Homo sapiens: one gene and its partners. The protein of the gene in region 3 purifies or fractionates together with the protein of the main gene of each other region. This does not show direct contact. Each region holds a gene or a part of one and is shown on either strand. Other genes may lie near its edges.

Evidence for each region. Proteins that work in one complex are often made in the same cells at the same time.
Region 1: the proteins of TXNDC12 (region 3) and TUBGCP2 purify together in Homo sapiens (affinity purification with mass spectrometry; 2 studies listed by BioGRID and IntAct, with this or other methods). This does not show direct contact.
Region 2: the proteins of TXNDC12 (region 3) and TM2D3 purify together in Homo sapiens (co-immunoprecipitation; 3 studies listed by BioGRID and IntAct, with this or other methods). This does not show direct contact.

What each region holds. Positions count from the first base shown.
Region 1 is NC_000010.11:133,291,856-133,298,887, forward strand, and holds part of TUBGCP2 (gamma-tubulin complex component 2), read right to left. Parts: intron 6,257-7,032; coding exon 6,097-6,256; intron 5,550-6,096; coding exon of another isoform or gene 5,466-5,549; intron 1,915-5,465; coding exon 1,707-1,914; intron 1,384-1,706; coding exon 1,184-1,383; intron 834-1,183; coding exon 644-833; intron 193-643; exon of another isoform or gene 1-192. UniProt on the Homo sapiens protein: Component of the gamma-tubulin ring complex (gTuRC) which mediates microtubule nucleation.
Region 2 is NC_000015.10:101,642,365-101,649,396, reverse strand, and holds part of TM2D3 (TM2 domain-containing protein 3 isoform a precursor), read left to right. Parts: intron 1-2,497; coding exon 2,498-2,672; intron 2,673-4,234; coding exon 4,235-4,310; intron 4,311-6,752; coding exon 6,753-6,918; 3' UTR 6,919-7,032. UniProt on the Homo sapiens protein: Probable positive regulator of Notch signaling.
Region 3 is NC_000001.11:52,019,615-52,024,207, forward strand, and holds the end of TXNDC12 (thioredoxin domain-containing protein 12 precursor), read right to left. Parts: intron 3,961-4,593; coding exon 3,877-3,960; intron 1,399-3,876; coding exon 1,319-1,398; 3' UTR 517-1,318; downstream 1-516. UniProt on the Homo sapiens protein: Protein-disulfide reductase of the endoplasmic reticulum that promotes disulfide bond formation in client proteins through its thiol-disulfide oxidase activity.

The sequences.
Region 1 (7,032 bases), on a different chromosome or scaffold from region 3:
GTCCCGGGGAGCCCTACCTGTACGGGAGAGGGCAGCATGCACCGTCCGTGTCCCCCATGTCCCTCCGTGTCCCCCATGTCCCTCCGTGTCCCTCCGTGTCCCCGTGTCCCGGGGAGCCCTACCTGTACGGGAGAGGGCAGCACGCACCCTCCGTGTCCCCCATGTCCCTCTGTGTCCCTCCGTGTCCCTCCGTGTCCCCCATGTCCCTCCGTGTCCCCCGTGTCCCTCCGTGTCCCTCCGTGTCCCTCCGTGTCCCCCATGTCCCCCATGTCCCCGTGTCCCGGGGAGCCCTACCTGTACGGGAGAGGGCAGCATGCACACTCCGTGTCCCCCGTGTCCCTCCGTGTCCCCCATGTCCCCGTGTCCCGGGGAGCCCTACCTGTACGGGAGAGGGCAGCATGCACACTCCGTGTCCCCCGTGTCCCTCCGTGTCCCCCATGTCCCCGTGTCCCGGGGAGCCCTACCTGTACGGGAGAGGGCAGCATGCACACTCCGTGTCCCCCGTGTCCCTCCGTGTCCCCCGTGTCCCCGTGTCCCGGGGAGCCCTACCTGTACGGGAGAGGGCAGCATGCACACTCCGTGTCCCCCATGTCCCTCCGTGTCCCCGTGTCCCTCCGTGTCCCCGTGTCCCGGGGAGCCCTACCTGTATGGGTCGTGGATGATGCCCCTGTAGATCCACTTCTCCAGAACCTCGAAGTAGGGAGCACTGGCCGCCTTGGTTAGGTACAGGCATAGCTCCTGCGCCTGGCTGTCCCCTGTGTAGCTGAAGCTCCTGTCGTGGAGCAGGCTCAGCGTGGACCCCCCAAGACATTCGCCTTTGTCCACCGAGGTGGCTGTGGGGAGAAAGGAGGGCTCACTGCTGAGAAGGAAGCGCACGCCCAGCCTCTGCCAACAACACTGCTGGGGCCCCTCATGCTTCTCCAACCTTCTTCCTGGGACGGTGCTGCTTCTTTGGGATACGTATTAACTGTAAGGTTGTAGTTGCTGATTTCAGCTGACCAGTAAGAGCTTCCAGGGCTTTCCTCTTGCAAGTTAATAGCACATGGAGCAACATGAGCTTTGGCCACACGCCCCTGCCCTGGGCAGCTGCTCCACGGCCCCTGCAGAGTCTCTCCTCACACTGGGTGCCATGTTCAACACCTGCCACCCACCACTGCCCCATGCCCCCCGGGCGGGCACGCACCGAGGGAGGCCAGGATGTCCATGGTGCGCATGGCTGGCTGGATGTAGAACCAGAGCTTCTGCAGCGAAAGGAGGCCCTGCCTGTGCAGCTGCTCCAGCTGTGACACCAGAATCAGGTGCTCCTTCACCAGGGTGCGCATGGCGGCCGCCAGGGCGTGGTTCACCTGCCCGTACTCGAAGGAAGACTTCTCTTCAATGAACCTGGAAGAAAAGCTGTCAGACTTCCTCAAAAAGGCAAGCTGCAGGCACATACAATGTCCGATATTCTGAGTCTCATCCCAAACAGGAAGCAAATGACTCACTTGAACCCCACATCCCAGAGGGGAACTTTTGCCCCAGGAGGAGATGAGTCAGGACCCTGGATGGTGACTCACAGACCCTCCAAAACTGAGTTGGGCACGGAGTTGTCACCAAGGCGGGCGCTCTCTTTAGAAGCGATGCAGACGTCCCCATGGTCATCAGGATGGGACCTAACCCCTCCCCCACAACAGCGCAGGCTCCCAGGGACCGCGCCCGGTGCCCACCTGGTCACAGCGGAGTAGCTGGCGGCCACTGGGAGGATCCTGTGCACCAGCTCCCTGATGGACAGGTCCAGGTTGGGGTCCACGAGGAAGGTCCGGCTCTGCCTCCCAGCCAGGGGCTGAGCACTGACGTACCTCCCGTCCACGCCCACCAGCACGTACAGCAGGTCCTCCACCACGGCCGACTCCTGCGAGGCCAGGGGCAACGTGCCTGCGGGCACAGACAGCGCTGTGGCTCTGCAGCCCCCACTCCCATGCCCCCACAGCCACGTGCCCTCATCTGCGGGTCAGTCTCACTCTTGCTCATCTTTGTTTATGGGTATAAAAGGTCAGCCACTGCACTTGGCTTTGACTGACCCCACTGGGGAGCCACAGGCTGAGTTCCAACCGCCGCAGGACGGGGCCGGCCTGGGAGGCGTGGTGGCTGGTGTCAAGATCTCACCACACTCGGCTCCGCAATGCTCAGATACATGGCTGACATTTGAAAAGGTGAAGTTAGGAGTTGAAAAGGCGACTCCAGCAGAAGCTGCACTTTCAACATTGGTAAGTACAACTTGGTAAGTCTGAGTTACTCTGGGACAAAAAACCTTGTCTTTAAAAAGCTATCACTTAAACGTTAAGAAACTCTTGATAATTTCTATCCAGAGAGGATGAGACGGCTGCAGGACACACAGCTAAGCTTCCTCACGAGGACGGCCACGGGCCGCCACCCACCAAACCCCTCAGGTCCCAGGACCAAGTTCTCAGTCCACAGCCTCAGGCGGGCCATGCCTGGGGGGCCGGGAGGAGCACCAGACGAAAGCAGGATGTTGAAACTGTCCCCACGAGGGCCTGACAGGGCCCCGTGCCAGCCAGACCATACCCAAACCAGGCCCTGGCAGCTCAGGAAGGCTCCGTACAACAGGCTTTCGGTTTACAAAATCACTCTGTCAGCCTCACACATCTGCTGGGAAGTGTCCTGTGACTGCAGGCCTCAAGACTACAATCCGTCACCAACGCAAGCCCTTCAGCGAAAGCCTCAATCCTGATGCAGATCCACACTGTCCTTGTTTTTTTTTTTTCCTTTTTTTATTTTTGAGACAAATCTCACTCTGTCACCCAGTCTGGAGGGCAGTGGTGCAATCTCAGCTCACTGCAGCCTTGAGCACCCAGGCTCAAGCGATCCTGTATCCTTAGTCTCCCTCGGAGCTGGGACCACTGGCACGTGCCACCATTCCTGGCTAATTTTTAAATTTTTTGTAAAGGTGGGGTCTTGCCGTGTTGCCCAGGCTGGCAGATCTACACTTTTCAACTTCAAATTCCATTTCTTTCTATTACTCCAGTGGCCTTCTCAGGATGACCAATAAAACCGAGACCCCAATGTCTACCATCCCTAAAGGAGTGGGTGTGGCTTGGCGTTTTGGGAACAGCGAGTGCATCTTCCAGGAACTGCCTCTGACTCTGCATCACTTACTTTCCACCATGTTGGCCTCATTCATCCACAGCCACGAAGCCTCGGCCAATGCCCTTGTGGGGAGAAGCCTCACGGTGGGGTGGAGGTGCCGTGGGGTGGGGGTTAGTGTGGATCCAGCCGCCTGGCTGTGGAGGGACCTCAAGGGTTGCTTTAGGCCGGGTATGGTGGCTCACACCTGTAATCCCATCACTTTAGGAGGCCAAGGTGGACAGATCGCTTGACTCCAGGAGTTCAAGACCAGCCTGGGCAACACGGCGAATCCCCGTCTCTACTGAAAATACAGAAATTAGCTGCGTGTGATGGTGCACACCTGCAGTCCCAGCTACTCGGGAGGCTGAGGTGGGAGAATCACCTGAGCTTGGGAGGTCGAGGCTGCAGTGAGCTGAGATTGTGCCACTGCACTCCAGCCTAGGCAACGAAGTGAGACCCTGTCTCAAGCAAAAAAAGAGTCAGTTGCTTCACCTCCCCAATATTCAACATCCTCAGTGTCATCTCAACACCTGCGATGTCACCTGCAAATCACCACGTCCGAACGACCACCGAACACGTGGCTCCTCCGTGCCGGTGTGGGGAAAAGGCAGGACGCGGGCAGATAACACCTTCGCATGCTGCGCGGGAGCGACCAGAGGGAGGGGCACTGCGGAGGCGGCGCTGGCCAGGTGGATGCCCACACGGTGAGGAGAGCATGGCGGGAACGTGGAGTGCTGGCAGCTGCCTCGTGCTCACAAGGTCCTGATGCTTTCCAAGGCACCTGTCCTCATCACACCACTCCACAGCTGTTTTCCAGAGGACGCAGGCCCGAGGTCACACAAGGTCCCGTGGTGTGGCACTGGTCAAATCGTGGGGTGAGGAGCTAGACAGGCCCCGGCATGAACACCACAGTGAGCTCCATTCTCAAGTCTGCACAGGTGGCACAAGGGGACAGGGACAGTGCGGACAAAGGGAGGCAAGGCAGCCTCAATACCGGAGGCACCCCTGGGACCTGTGGTATGTGGCCGTGGGAGGGAGGTGGGGCGAGGCCGCCCCTTTCCTGGGATGCTGAGTGTGCTGAGGGCACCTGCACCCTGACCTGAGAGCTGGCTGCAGGGTTCACAGCCAAGTCTCACACACTTGCTGCCAATCACCGCCACGCTCAGAGCTGCCCACGGCGCCGCAGCGTTACTGGACAGTGCGTTCCTCTTTTGTACAACCCCTTCCCTGAATGGGGAAACATGGGGGGAAAGCCTGAACACCCCCTCAGTGCCTCCTGCTCCAAAAAGCCGGCTCCACTGCTGGGATCCCAGGCAGCAGGGCCCCGCGCTTCCTTCTCCGAAGTCTGCCTGGGTACCATCAGGAGCTCTCAGGTGCCCACCACTCCCCGGCTGCCTGCTGAGTACCCGCTAAGGGAGCAGCTCTCTCTCCCTAAGTCTTCACAGTTGGGTTTTCACAGTTGGATTATTACTGAAAACACTGCACAAAGCAGACTGCTTTGTTTTTTTTTTTTTGAAACAGGGTCTCGCTCTGTTGCCCAGGCTGGAGTGCAGTGGCACGATCACAGCTCACTGCAGCCTCGACCTCTCAGGCTCAAGTGATCCTCCCACCTCAGCCTCCTGAGTAGCTGGGACTACAGGTGCACGCTACCACACTCGGCTAATTTTCACATTTTTTGTAGAGACTAGTCTCGTCCTGTCGCCCAGGCTGGTCTCGAATTCCTGGGCTCAAGGAATCCACGCACCTCACCTCCCTAAGTGCTGGGATTACAGGTGTGAGCCACCATGCCTGGCCGAAGTAGACTGTTTTCCATACTTTTCATTAACTTACAGCATGGTTTTCTATACTTCTCATAACTTACAGCAGGGTTTTTCTATACTTTTCATTAACTTACAGCAGGGTTCTGTTTGCTTGGGGATGAGGAAAACAGGTGGATTTCACGTCACCGTTCTCCAGGGTTTCCGGCAAAGGCAAGGGTTGGCCCCTTGGTGCCCACATTGCAGAGCCGTGAGTAGTGGGGAAGCAGACCACGCTCCATGCTGCCTCTTGAGTTTGGACTAACGGGGATGGGGCAAGATAAGCAGGTATGCTCTGTCCTTAGTTTGTGAAATCTCATTTTTCAATCTAAAAATGTACTTGACTAGGCGTGGTGGCTCATGCCTGTAATCCCAGCACTTTGTGAGGCCAAGGTGGGCAGATCACCAGAGGTCAGGAGTTCGAGACCAGTCTGGCCAACACGGCAAAACCCCGTCTCTACTAAAAATATAAAAATTAGCCAGGCGTGGTGGCGCCTGCAGTCCCAGCTACTTGGGAGGCTGAGGCAGGAGAATCGCTTCAACCTGGGAGGTGGAGGTTGCAGTGTGCCGAGATCACGCCACTGCACTTCAGCCTGGGCGACAGAGCGAGATTCCATCTCAAAAGAACTAAAAATAAATAAAAATAAAAATGTACCCATGAATTGTGACAGATGAACACATCCCAGGTCCCCAATAACAACGTCTTGAAATGACTGTGTGGTCTCACCCGCATCTTGTTTACACGAACACTACTTAAGAGGCCTCTGAGAATACTGCTGTAACAGAATCTATGGGAGTCATGAATCGCTGTTCAGAAATAAGTGCTGCACACAATTCTGATGCCTGCAGGTCTGCACCAGGGCACCAGGATGCCGGCTGGGGAGGGGCCTGCTGCAGGCTGCCCCACAGCTCTGGCAGAAGGGACAGGAGAAGAACCCTCAAGGACCCGGGTGAGCCGTTCTCTGCTGCCATCCTGGGATGGGAATATGGAGGCGGCAGCCAGTCAGCATTGAGCCTCACAACCTGAGGAAAGGCAGGCCCGGGGGAGGGCTGGGCCTGCAAAGTGTCCTGCCCAGAGGCCAGAAATAAACACATGACATACCTATCGGCAGAGCCCGGAAATCAACGCATCACGTACCTATCGGCAGAGCCCGGAAATCAACGCATCACGTACCTATCGGCAAAGCGGTGTCTGTGCTGATGCCAGCACCAATCAGGAAATCCCCGATCAGGGCAGGTCTCTCATACACCCATGCTGGGAAGATGGGGAGGTGCTGGCCTGAATTTTTTTTGTTCTGCTTGTCTCGAAGCATCTTTCTTTTAAGTTCCAGAGACTAGCAAGGACATTTTAAAAAACAAAACCAGAAAGATACACTTTAGCGCAAACACTCAACTAAAGACATGCATAGAAGCTAGCATCTACGGCAAAGATGATTACTCAATTCAACACCCACAAAGGGTCAACCACATAGAAATGAAATGCGCCTCGACATCCCTGCCTGCCACAACGTGAGGGGCTGGGGACAACAGGGCAGATGGGGAGCCCTAGCCCCTCTTCTCAGGAGTGCAGGTCCTGCAAGGGCCCCCCTGGGAAAACATGAGCACCAGCAGTGGGAACCACGGGAGAGGGTGCACCTAGGCACAGAGCCGCTGTTTCAAAGGAGGGCGCCCTGTGAACAAGCTGAATTGCTTCTTTCTGGCAGTGACTAGGTCTGAACACCACTTGATGGGTGAAGACAGGCTTCAGCAACAGACATGCATCCTTACCCTGCCGGAGAAGGGCCCCAGCGTGACAGGATGGCTCCTGACATGTGGTCAGAGAGCCTGCCCTCCTGCGCCAGTGGCCGCCAGAGGCTGATGGGGTCGGCCTGGGCTGGCCCAGCTTTCGGAAGCACTGACTCCCACTCAGGGCTGGTCAGGGACACGGGCAGATGCAAACTGTCTCTGCACGTGGCAGTAAGACCCAGTCTTCTGCCACGGCTGAGGGAGACGTGGACAGAGGCCTAGCACCATGTCCAGCACAGAACGTGCCCAGCAAGAACCGGCTGGGTCCTTGGGAGCCGCTGCACTCAACACGCACCCAGGAGGCTAGGACGCCTCAGGGACACAG
Region 2 (7,032 bases), on a different chromosome or scaffold from region 3:
AAGTATGAAATAAAGTTTAGAAGCCATAAAATAAAGAATTGATACATTTGACTCCTAAAAATTGGAGATTTCTGCATGACCTAAAAAAAAAAGCATAAAGGCAAAAGACATGGCAAACTAGGAAAAAGCGTTTCTAGAATATGTGACAAATAATACAGTAATATCAGTAATATATAAACACTTCCTAAAACCCACACGGAAAAGATGACAGTCTTGTAGAAAAACAGTGTTAGGACATGAGCAGATGGTTCATAGGAAAGGAAATACAAATAGATATATAACATGAAAAACATATAAGTTTTCTCATAGTATTTAATTAATACATTTTTAACCCTTAGATTGGCAATTTTTTTTTAATTTGATTAACTCTGAGTTTGTGAGAGTATAAGGGTCAGATGCTCATATCTTATTAATAGGTAATCAAATTGATCAACCTCTTGTAGGCGATTTGCCATATCTGTTAAACTTACACATGCACACAATCGTTGAGCTCGTAGTTGTACATGTAGGAATTTATGTTATAGATATCATTATACATGGATGCAGATAAGTGTGCTTATTTTTTAGCTGCATTGCTCATTAAAGCAAAAGATTCAAAAGAAGTGAAATGTCTAAGAACTGCTTAATTTATGGTACACGTGTAATAGAATAAACACCTTGTAGCCATTAAAAAGAACTAGGCAGCTCTAGAGGTAATGTACTGATAGATGTCCAAAATTAAGTGAAAGTATTGGGGAACATTAAATGTAGGTGACATAAATGTGCCTATGTGTAGAATCAGCTCTCTCTGGAAGCACAGAGCGTACTTGGCCTGGGGAGGGCAGGGGCTCCCGGCGGCTGGGCCAGACGAGGCCGGCTCACTTCTCACTCTCCTGTTGTGTCTTGACATGTGTTCCATGTACATGTGTCACCTACTTTTTAAAAAACCATTAAAAAAAGTGTGTTTTAAGCACATCACTGAAAATAGGCAGATGTAAACGTATTATTTTGCAGATCCAACTGTTTGCCTAAATCAAGTGATGCCTTACCCATATTTGAATGTTTTCCATAAAAAGTGGTTTTTGCATTGATAAGAAAATGAATAGTACTTGCTTCATCAGCGCATATGCCAAAGTTGGAACCATACAGAGAGAATTAGGATGGCTCTTCTGCAAAAATGACATGCAAATTTGTGAAATGTTAAAAAAAATAACAAACATGGGCCGGGCGTGGTGGCCTACACCTGTAATCCCAGCACTTTGGCAGGCCGAGGCAGGTGAATCACCTGAGGTCAGAGGTTGAGACCAGCCTGGCCAACATGGTGAAACCCCATCTGTACTAAAAATACAAAAATTAGCTGGGCGTGGTGGGGTGCGTCTCTAATCCCAGCTACTCAGGAGGCTGAGGCAGGAGAATCGCTTGAACCTGGGAGGCGGAGGTTGAAGTGAGCCGAGATTGCACCACCGCATTCCAGCCTGGGCGACAGAGCGAGACTCCATCTCAAAAAAAGAAAAAAAAATAATGTGTGTATGTGTATATATATGTATACATATATATACATGATGCTTCCAGAGATGTGTGACCACATAAAAATGATTTTGAAAAATATGCACTGCAATGTAATGTCAGGTAGAGTAAAAAGACTACAAAGTGCTTTCAGTATAATTCCATTTTAGTAAATTTATAAATATACATGTAGAAGAAACGGAAAGAAGATTAAAAGTGGTTAGCTCTGAACACCTATAGGTTTTTGTCTATAATCTTCAAATATGTAACATACAAAGAACATTCTACTTTTGTAAGCAGAATACAAAATAATGGCTTTTAAAATTGAAATGAAAAATTCTCTGGCCACCAGTGAACACTCACTGAGCCTCCACACACCATGTGGTGCTTCTGAGTTGGGCTGCCTCTGGATTAAACATGCCACATGCCCTGGTGGTAGGAGCAGCTGTAACAACCCTGAGTTGCCAGGCTGTGCAAGGTAGGGGATGTTAGGGAAGGTTGGCAACTCGGAAGCAAGGCGGTGTGTTAACCATTACAGAAGCATCAGGCTGGAGTTCAGGGACCTGGATTCCACTCCTCACTTGAAGCTCAGTGACCTTCAACAAATGCATTCATCAGTTCCTTCCAGCCATCCGTGATTGTGACTTTCTAAAATAAATTTTCCTCTTTTCTGCATTATAAAAGTATACGTTTACTATGAAAAATTTAGCTAAGCAAAAGTTATGAAATAATTATATCACCCTGAAATAACCTTTGCTATTTTGATGTGAATTTATCTAGTTTTTTCCCTTAAGTACATATGTTTGGGTGTGTAGTTTTATGATTATGAGGTCACATCATAGGCATTTGTTTTACATACATATTGTTTTGGTAACTGTTTTTCTGGCACTTACTCCTAGGTCCTAAATACAAGCATTTACGGAATTTTGTGCCATGTGACTGTGTAGTCTTACTGACATCTTAACAGACTACACCATTGTGATTGATGAGTTTTGTGTCATTTGCTACATAGGATCAAGACTTCAAATCCCAAAAGAACTTCATCATTAACATGACTTGCAGATTTTGCTGGCAGCTTCCTGAAACAGATTACGAGTGTACCAACTCCACCAGCTGCATGACGGTGTCCTGTCCTCGGCAGCGCTACCCTGCCAACTGCACGGTGCGGGACCACGTCCACTGCTTGGGTAGGTCAGAGTTCAAGGACATTTGTCAACAAAATGTTTTTCTCCAAGTTTATTGAAGGGACTTTAACCAGAAATTTGCGAGTCAAGTTACTTAATTAGAAACATTTATCAGCAGCTCTTTAGATGTGCCAAGCATCATCAATAAACTCAACGTACTAAAGTAAAGCATCCAGAAAATTGCAGTTCTTTTTAAATGTAATATTTGATAAAATAAGAAAAACATTTGAAGTATAAAGCATAATACACAGTAATTGACCTTTACCCAAAATAACAATGAAAGCAGCACCAATACCATTGCGGCCGCCTGAGTGCCTGAGTGCTTGCCTTCACCTGGTTGCCTTTCCTCCTCTTCCAAGGTAACCACCCTTTTGAATTTTTTATTTCACTTCCTTTTAAATTTTTTCTGTAGTTTTATTGTCTATATGTAATAAAATAATATTCAATAATGCATGTTTTAGAACCGTGTAAAATGATTTCAGGCTGTGTGCTCTTCTGGGACTTGCTTATTTCCTAAACATTGTGGCTCTAGGATTCATCCACGTGACTTCTCTTCTTTTTTTTACTTCTGTGTAATAATCTATTGTAAGATTGTATCACAGTTTATTCTCCAATATATTTGGTTAAGTGCTGTTTTCCGCTGTTGTGACTGTTCAAATTTCTTTGCCTGTCTCCCAATGGCACAGGTGCAAGAGCTTCTTCAGCATGTACTTTCCAGCGTGTGTCATTCTTTAAATGGCTGTATTGACTGGCATTCCCACCCGCGCTATGTAACTGTTCCTGATGAGCCATATTCTCTCCAAGAGTGGTTATTCTTAAATTTGGTCTTAAAGTTGTCTAGACTTCTTTTATATTTTGGATATTACCTGTGCTGTCCCTGAAACCCTCTCCCAGATTTTGATTTTTTTTTTTTTTGCATTATTGTATATTTTCATGAACAGAACTTTAAAAATATAATTACTGGAAGTTATTAGAGTTAGTCCTTTTTTGTGGTGGTTTTAAGAAATCTTTTTCTACCCCAGGTTAATAAAGACAATTTGCTACATTTTCTTTTGAAAGTTGTAAGTATAACATTTCACATTTAGGTTTAGAATCCACCTGGAATTGGTCCTGGTAGATGGTGTGAGGTAGATTCTACTTTAATTGTCCCCCCACATGGATGGCCAGTTGTCTCAACTCTTCCCTGTTGATCCGTGTGTGACCTCTGTCATAACACTCATACATGAAGTGTTTGTATATTTCTGGTTCTTGACTTTCTCTTCTTTTCCTATTGGGTGATTTTTATGCCTCAAGACTACACTGTCTTATATACTCGTAACTTCCCCGTAGGTCTTGATATGTGGGTGAGCATTTCATGTTCCTCACGTTGTAATCCTAACTTAGCTGATTTAAATATTACATCTATGTAGATAGATGGTAAGCGCTTTGTACTCTTCACTTCAACATGTATTACCGTAAAGAGAGTTGACTTTTCACATTTTAAATTTTGAGCCCATTTGTTACAATTAAGTCTTTCTGAGAGTATTTTTTATACCCTGTATTTTTCTTTCTTTTTTTTTTTTAAGGTAACCGTACTTTTCCCAAAATGCTATATTGCAATTGGACTGGAGGCTATAAGTGGTCTACGGCTCTGGCTCTAAGGTAAGCCTTGTTACTCGTAAGTGTAAAAGGCCGTTTGCATTTCTTTGGGATTGGTGGAATCTTCAGACATTGAGCTCAGTCCCCTTCATTCTTCACTCAGATCCTACCACGTGTGTTAGACTCTAGCAAACAGCTGGAAGAGTTTAGATGATCAGACCAGTACCTCCGTGGAGTTGACTGGCAGGCATGTTAGCTTTTCTCCCAAGATGCCTGCACATTACGTTTACCATTCTGAATGTACCACGAATCAGTAAAATGCTGTGGACTATCCAAAATAGGCAGTTTTATGATGTATATCTTTAATTTTAAGTAACTATTATAAAAAGTAATACATGATGAACACTGAAAACTGGAAAAATGAAAATGACAAAAACATTAAAAATTACCTATAATTTCATCAGCAGCAGATAATTATAGGCTTATATTTCTTACATAGAAATGTGCTGTTTGTTAAACTTCTCAACAGTACTTTAAGAAATTATAGCAGTTCTTCCCACCAAAGGGAAGGGCAGGTAAGACCCTGGTTAACTGATTAGTGAAAAGGTTACGCTGCCTACACTTGAAGTTTTGAGTTCGTGCCTGAGACCCTGAGGCCTGCAGCATTGCAGCCATAGGGCAGGATTTCTCAGCCTCATCACTGCTGACGTTCTGGGCTGAATGAGTTTTTGTCTTGGGGCTGTGCTGTGCATAGCAGGGTGTTGAGCAGCATCACTGGCCTCTACCTACTACTTGTCAGTAGCAAACCCCCCATCCCTTGCAGCTGTGACAGTGTGTCTCCAGATGTTGCCAGGTGTCCCCTAGGGGACAAAATTGCCCCTTGCTGAGAACCACTGCATTAGAATTTGAGCTGAGGAAAGAAGGATCTTGCCTGGCAGGAAAAGTGTAACTGAAAAGTAAAAGAGGGTGCCAGGATAGAAAATGAGACTAACAAAAATAAGATAGGGCGGGCGCGATGGCTCACACCTGTAATCCCAGCGCTTTGGGAGGCCGAGGCTGGCGGATTGCTTGAGGTCAGGAGTTCAAGACCAGCCTGGCCAACATGGTGAAACCCCATCTCTACCAAAAATACAAAAGCCTGCCATCGTGGTTCATGTCTGTGGTTCCAGCTGCGTGGTAGGCTGCAATGGGAAGATCACTTGAGCCCAGGAGGAGGAGGCTGCAGTGAGCTGGCATTGCACCACTGCACTCCAGCCTCAGTGACAGAGTGAGATTCTGTCTCAAAAAAAAAGATTAGTAACCATTGCTGACAATGGTTCAAATTAACAACTGGCTTTTTAAAAAAATAAATAAATGTTTGAAACTTGGAATAATTTTAATTTACAGAAAAGTTGCAAAGATAGTAGAGTTCTTATATACCCCTAACCTGGTTTCCCTACATTGTTAACCTCTTACAGTACTATACTGTAACATACTTTCAACAATTAAAACTTCTCAGCACTCAACATGGTTTTTTTTTTTTTTTGCTTTTTTTTTTTTTTTTTTTTTTTAACGGAGTCTCTCTCTGTCACCCAGGCTGGAGTGCAGTGGCTCAATCTCGGCTTACTGCAAGCTCCACCTCCCAGGTTCACGCCATTCTCCTGCCTCAGCCTCCCGAGCAGCTGGGACTACAGGCGCCCGCCACCACGCCTGGCTAATTTTTTGTATTTTTAATAGAGACAGGGTTTCACCGTGTTAGCCAGGATGGTCTGGATCTCCTGACCTTGTGATCCGCCTGCCTCAGCCTCCCAGAGTGCTGGGATGACAGGCGTGAGCCACCGCGCCCGGCAACATGGTTTCTTTTAAAATCATCACTGTAATGAGATGATGCCCAAGGTTTGCTTCAGGGTACTCTGGAGGGGAAAGAGGAGGGTTTTGATGAAACACAGCTGGCCAAGTGTTGATTATTGGAGCTGAGTCATGGGTACTGTTCTCTTTACTTTTTATTGTTAGGTGTTTAGAAATTTTCCATAATATAGTTTCAGTATTATTAGATCTTAGAATTTAAAAGATCCTTAAATCTTTTAAGGATTTATTCCTAACATTAAGATTTTAGAGATGAATGAAAAAATAGACTGAAAACATGGATGACTTGATCCAGGTCGTCCAGGTGGTGGTGAGCTCCTCCTGACTCCAGCCCTGACCCCGTGTTAGTGCACTTCCTGTTAGACTGGGTCTTTGCTTTATTTTGACTAAAAAGCAATGAGATTGATAACTTTAAAAAAAGAAAACATTGGTTTTTTAGTACAGCTAAAAATTGTATGTTTACTTTTGACATTTAAACTGTCTTCCTGCCCGTAATTATTTGGTGGTGTCAGTTTGTGAAATAGTCACTTGTGTTCCAGTTAAGGGCTACGATCAGGGGAAGCCCTTTCTCAAATCTGACATAATGTGGTGATTAAACCGTGACTGGCCACAGCTGGGGTGGAGGTGGTCTCATGGAATCCTGTCTGTTTGCCATCGCAGCATCACCCTCGGTGGGTTTGGAGCAGACCGTTTCTACCTGGGCCAGTGGCGGGAAGGCCTCGGCAAGCTCTTCAGCTTCGGTGGCCTGGGAATATGGACGCTGATAGACGTCCTGCTCATTGGAGTTGGCTATGTTGGACCAGCAGATGGCTCTTTGTACATTTAGCTGTGGTGTGTGCTTCAGAAAGGAGCAGGGCTTAGAAAAAGCCCTTTTGTCCGTAGGAGTTGATGTGGTGTGAGTGATATATTTCTATGTTTTTAATGTACAGCATCTGTACTT
Region 3 (4,593 bases):
CCTCGGCCTCCCAAAGTGCCGGGATTACAGGCGTGAGTCACCGCGCCCGGCCTAATTTTGTATTTTTAGTAGAGCCGGGGTTTCGCCATGTTGGCCAGGCTGGTCTCGAACTCCCTACCTCAGGTGATTCGCCCACCTTGGCCTCCCAAAGTGCTGGGAGTACAGGCGTGAGCCACTGTGTCCAGCCAGGAAAGGTTTTAAACAGGGGAGTGATATGGATCGATTGCAGGAGGAGGGAATATTAGAGCCAATAGGCAAGTTAAGGGGCTATAGCAATAAATAGTCGAAGAGAGAAAAAGCCTGCCCCGTGCTAAAACAGTGATAGTGTGGACAGAGGAAATTCAGGTATTTAAAAAGTAAAAGAGAGGAGCCATTGTGCTCATTTGAATGTGGGAGGTGAAGGAGCAGGAGTCCTAGGTTAGGACTCCTAGATTAGGTCCTCTAGGTTAGTTTTCTTCCTGAAGTGATCTCCATCCCTCCCTCCTTTTCCAATAACAAAAAGGCCATCACAGCACATTTCCTTTTAAAGTTTTATTAAAGTTTAATGGTACAATATTTTATCTCTTTTTTTGTTAATGCCAGTACAAAAATACAGTTGATGACTTGACAAAATGGCTACACCTAGGGCTTGAAGGTTTGAGTTTCTCCAACAGTAACAAGGGAAAGCATGCTTCCACCTGGAGCCGAGTCCAAGCACACAGCCAGTCCTGCACACGCATGCGTGCAAACAGGGAAGCTCAAGCATGAGAAGAGGAAAGAGGCTGTAGAAATTTGGGAAGAAGCCCACAATTATTCCCAGGAGAAAAAAGGGAAAAAACAGGCTGATATCCTTGGTAGGGGGTAGAATAACTGATTTACACTTAGGATTTATTGTTATTGTTGTTGTTGTTGTTTTTTAATGATAAGCTACTTCTGCAATTTTAACGTTGTAGAAAAGATGCTACTAGTCTCCTTTCACCACTAAGGTGAGTAAAGTGGGAGGAAATGGGAAAAGACTCAAATACTTAAGTGCGAGGAGTAAACATCCAAGTGGCTCAAGTTTTGTGTCAGAAGGTTTCATTCTTTACATTCAATGACAAGTTGACATTTAGGTGAGAGGGAAAAGGAGAAGAAAGTCTGCCACTCTCCGCTGGATCCACAAACATGCAGACCAGCTTCTGTTAGCAGAACTCTTCCACAGTGAGAGCGCTCCTTCCAGTGTAGGTAGGAATGAGGTTTCCTGGTCGGCTTAATTGTTCTAGATGATTCCTCAATATTCCCTTCCCTGCTGCTTTCCTTCCAGAACACTAACTCTGATGAAAGAAGGGGCACATTCATGTTACAATTCATCTTCAAGATGTTTCTTTCTGAAGGCATCACCCGTCAGCCTTTCCTGAGCTTCCTTCATCCCCTGAACAACTGTGAAATAAAGATTGGAGGAAAAAAGTATGAAGTAAGTAATGTTTGACATTTGACAACCAATGTACACTTTTAAATGTTTCAGAAGAAATATGAGAGGAGTACAAGATCTGGACTCAAGATCTAGCTCTGGATTTTGGCCCTGGCAAGTCATTTATCTCTTTGAATTTGTTTCCTCATTTATAAAATGAAATAATGTAACTCACTTCACACAGTATTATAAAAGTTAAATGGGAGAATGGATAATAAAAGTGCTTTATCAACTACGAAGTCATACCAAAATCTTAGCAGTTATTTTGGCTTACCCTCTAGGATTAGAGCTGATCCCCTGTCCTAGACTGTAGATGTTCACTTCACCCCCAGGGAAGAGGAAACACCTTCCTACCGTCCCCATTGTATCTTTTGGATGAATGTTGCACTTATTTTACTTCCTGTGGAGGTTACAGATTACACTGAGGGGTGTGTGTGCTGGGGCGGGGGTGTCTCTACTGAAGGGGGTCGTCATTTCCAGTATCAACTATACATGGATGAAGCCAAGTTCTCAGGCCAAAAAAAAAAAAAAAAAAAAAGAGAGAGAGAAACCTGGAAGGAGGGCCTTAAGTAGACTCGAGATGAAACTTCTTGTCTGTCTTGGGGCATCCTGCTTATGGATTTAGACTCAAGGGGGACAGCTATTTCAGTATAGGCTCCTGAATGGTGGTTCTACAAAGCACCCCTATATAATGGCAGGCCAGAAGCTGGGTTGAGCCAGAGTCTATGAATCTTGCAAAGCCAAACCATAAGCTCATAAGAGGCAGATAATACAGTTTGTTATTTCTGTTTTGTTTTGCCTATGCCTTTAGTAAAGCTGGGTTTGAATGTTCCAGTTTCATGTCAGCTGAGAGATGGAGGATTCAGGGAAGGGTCTCATGTTCACATCTGGACTATGTCAGTGTGGAGACAGCAGTGGTAACTTGGATGAAATTCTAAAGGGAAGGTGAATCTCAAGATACAAGAATTGGAGACCTAAAGCCCAGCTGCCCTTCTCCACGTGGAAAATTTCCCTTTGATACCAATCTCCAGTGATCTGCATTTGGTTAAGGAACATGACATTCTCCTTACTCAGGGGAAGAAGGTAATAGCTTCTACAGATCTCCTCCCCGTCCCTAGTCTGAGAATAAGAGTATCAAGGACTCAAATCATAAAGTGATCAACAGCCTGGCAGCATGGCAAATAGGGACACATGGCAACTTAGCACACAACTCCCTTTCATAGATGAGGGGAAAAGGAAGGAAAGCAGCAACAATACATGGCATGAATTCCAACCCCTGCCTCCAGAATGACTGTGCTCAAAGATTAGAGAACAAAAAAGCATGACTGGCTGACGATTGCAAACTTCCTTCACTTGTTTGTGCTGGTGCTCTTCTCTCTCCTGGAACATGCTTTTCCCATTCTGCTACTGACAAGGTCTTATTCTCTAAGGCTTAATCCAGTCATTATTTCTTCTAGCAAGCCTTACAAACTCTATGTTGGGCTACATTCCCCCGCCACTTCACTTCCATAGCTTGAAATGTCCTCCTCATATCTGTCCAGAGATGAAATTTTTATCCTTCTAGGTCCGTTTACGTTTCGGGGTTTTTTTGGTTTTTTTTTTTTTTTTTTTTTGAGACAGAGTCTCGCTCTGTCACCCAGGCTAGAGTGCAATGGCGCACGATCTTGGCTCACTGCAACCTCTGCCTCTCGGGTTCACGCCATTCTCCTGCCTCAGCCTCCCGAGTAGCTGGGACTACAGGCACCTGCCACCACGCCAGCTAATTTTTTGTATTTTTAGTAGAGACGGGGTTTCACCATGTTAGCCAGGATGGTCTCAATCTCCTGACCTCATGATCCTCCCGCCTCGGCCTCCCAAAGTGCTGGGATTACAGGCGTGAGCCACCACGCCCAGCCCGCTCAGCTATTTTTTGTATTTTTAGTAGAGATGGGGCTTTGCCATGTTGGCCAGGCTGGTCTTGAACTCCTGACCTCAAGTGATCTGCCTGCCTCGGCCTCCCAAAGTGCTGAGATTACAGGTATGAGCCACTGTGCTCGGCCTATTTAAGTTTAATATCTATAAAACCTCTTAGACTTGTTCACCTAACACTATTCCTCTTCCACTGAATTTTCATAGGAAAAACAGTATTAGCTCAGTAGGAAAAAAACTAAGTTCTGGACTCAAATTCTGGCTCTGCTACTTAACTATGAAACTATGGGCAAGTGACTACCTCAGTCACTTGTGTGCCTCAGTTCTTCACAGCTGCCTGTGGGTCAGTCAGCTCTTCCAAGGGAAGGGGCTCAGTCTCATCTTCCTCCTATATCCTACACAGGATCTGGCCAAAAGCTATAGACATGCAGGAGATGCTCAGCTAACATGCTGAATTTACTTTCCTATCACAGACCTTGCATGTGGTTCATCCTAGTTCAATCTAGCAATAATCCTCCCTCCCTTCAGCATAACTATACCTTGCTCGGCACTGACATAAAAATACTTGTAGCTGGGGTTTCCATTCTCATTGATGATTTCAGGATGCACCTTGCCACTGGGATCTGTTATAGACAAAATGACACAGAGTTTTGCAGTAATTACAACAGACAGGTACTTCAAACACTACCTGGTACATCGGGCCCTCTGGGAAATAAGATCTGCCCATATTTGCAGCCCATTACCTCACCATAATACCTCCTACATTTCTGCTTCCTTTTCTGCTTGATGATTTTGACTTCTATCCCCCATAAAACCTAGCAGAATTTATGCTGAACAAAGATTAGGTGGTCATTAAATATCTCTTATAAAATTATTTGTGGAAAGACATTTATCTGGTTATATTATTCCATTGCCTTAGGTGCACTATAGGTTCAAGGGTGAGAATTCTGGCTTATATCTGTCTCTGTAGTGTCTAATACAGTGCTTGACATATGGCTGATGCGCAAATGGCTATTGAAGTGAATAAATGATCAAACTCTTTTTTTTTTTTTTGAGACAGGGTCATTCAGTTTCCTTCTGTCATTCAGGCTCAAGGGCAGTGGCGTGATTATGGCTCACTGCAGCCTTGACCTCCCAGGCTCAATTGATCCTCCCGCCTCAGCCTCCTAAATAGCTGAGACTACAGGTGCGTGCCACCACACCCGGCTAATTTTTGTACTTTTTGTAGAGACGGGCTTTCACCGTGTTGCCCATGC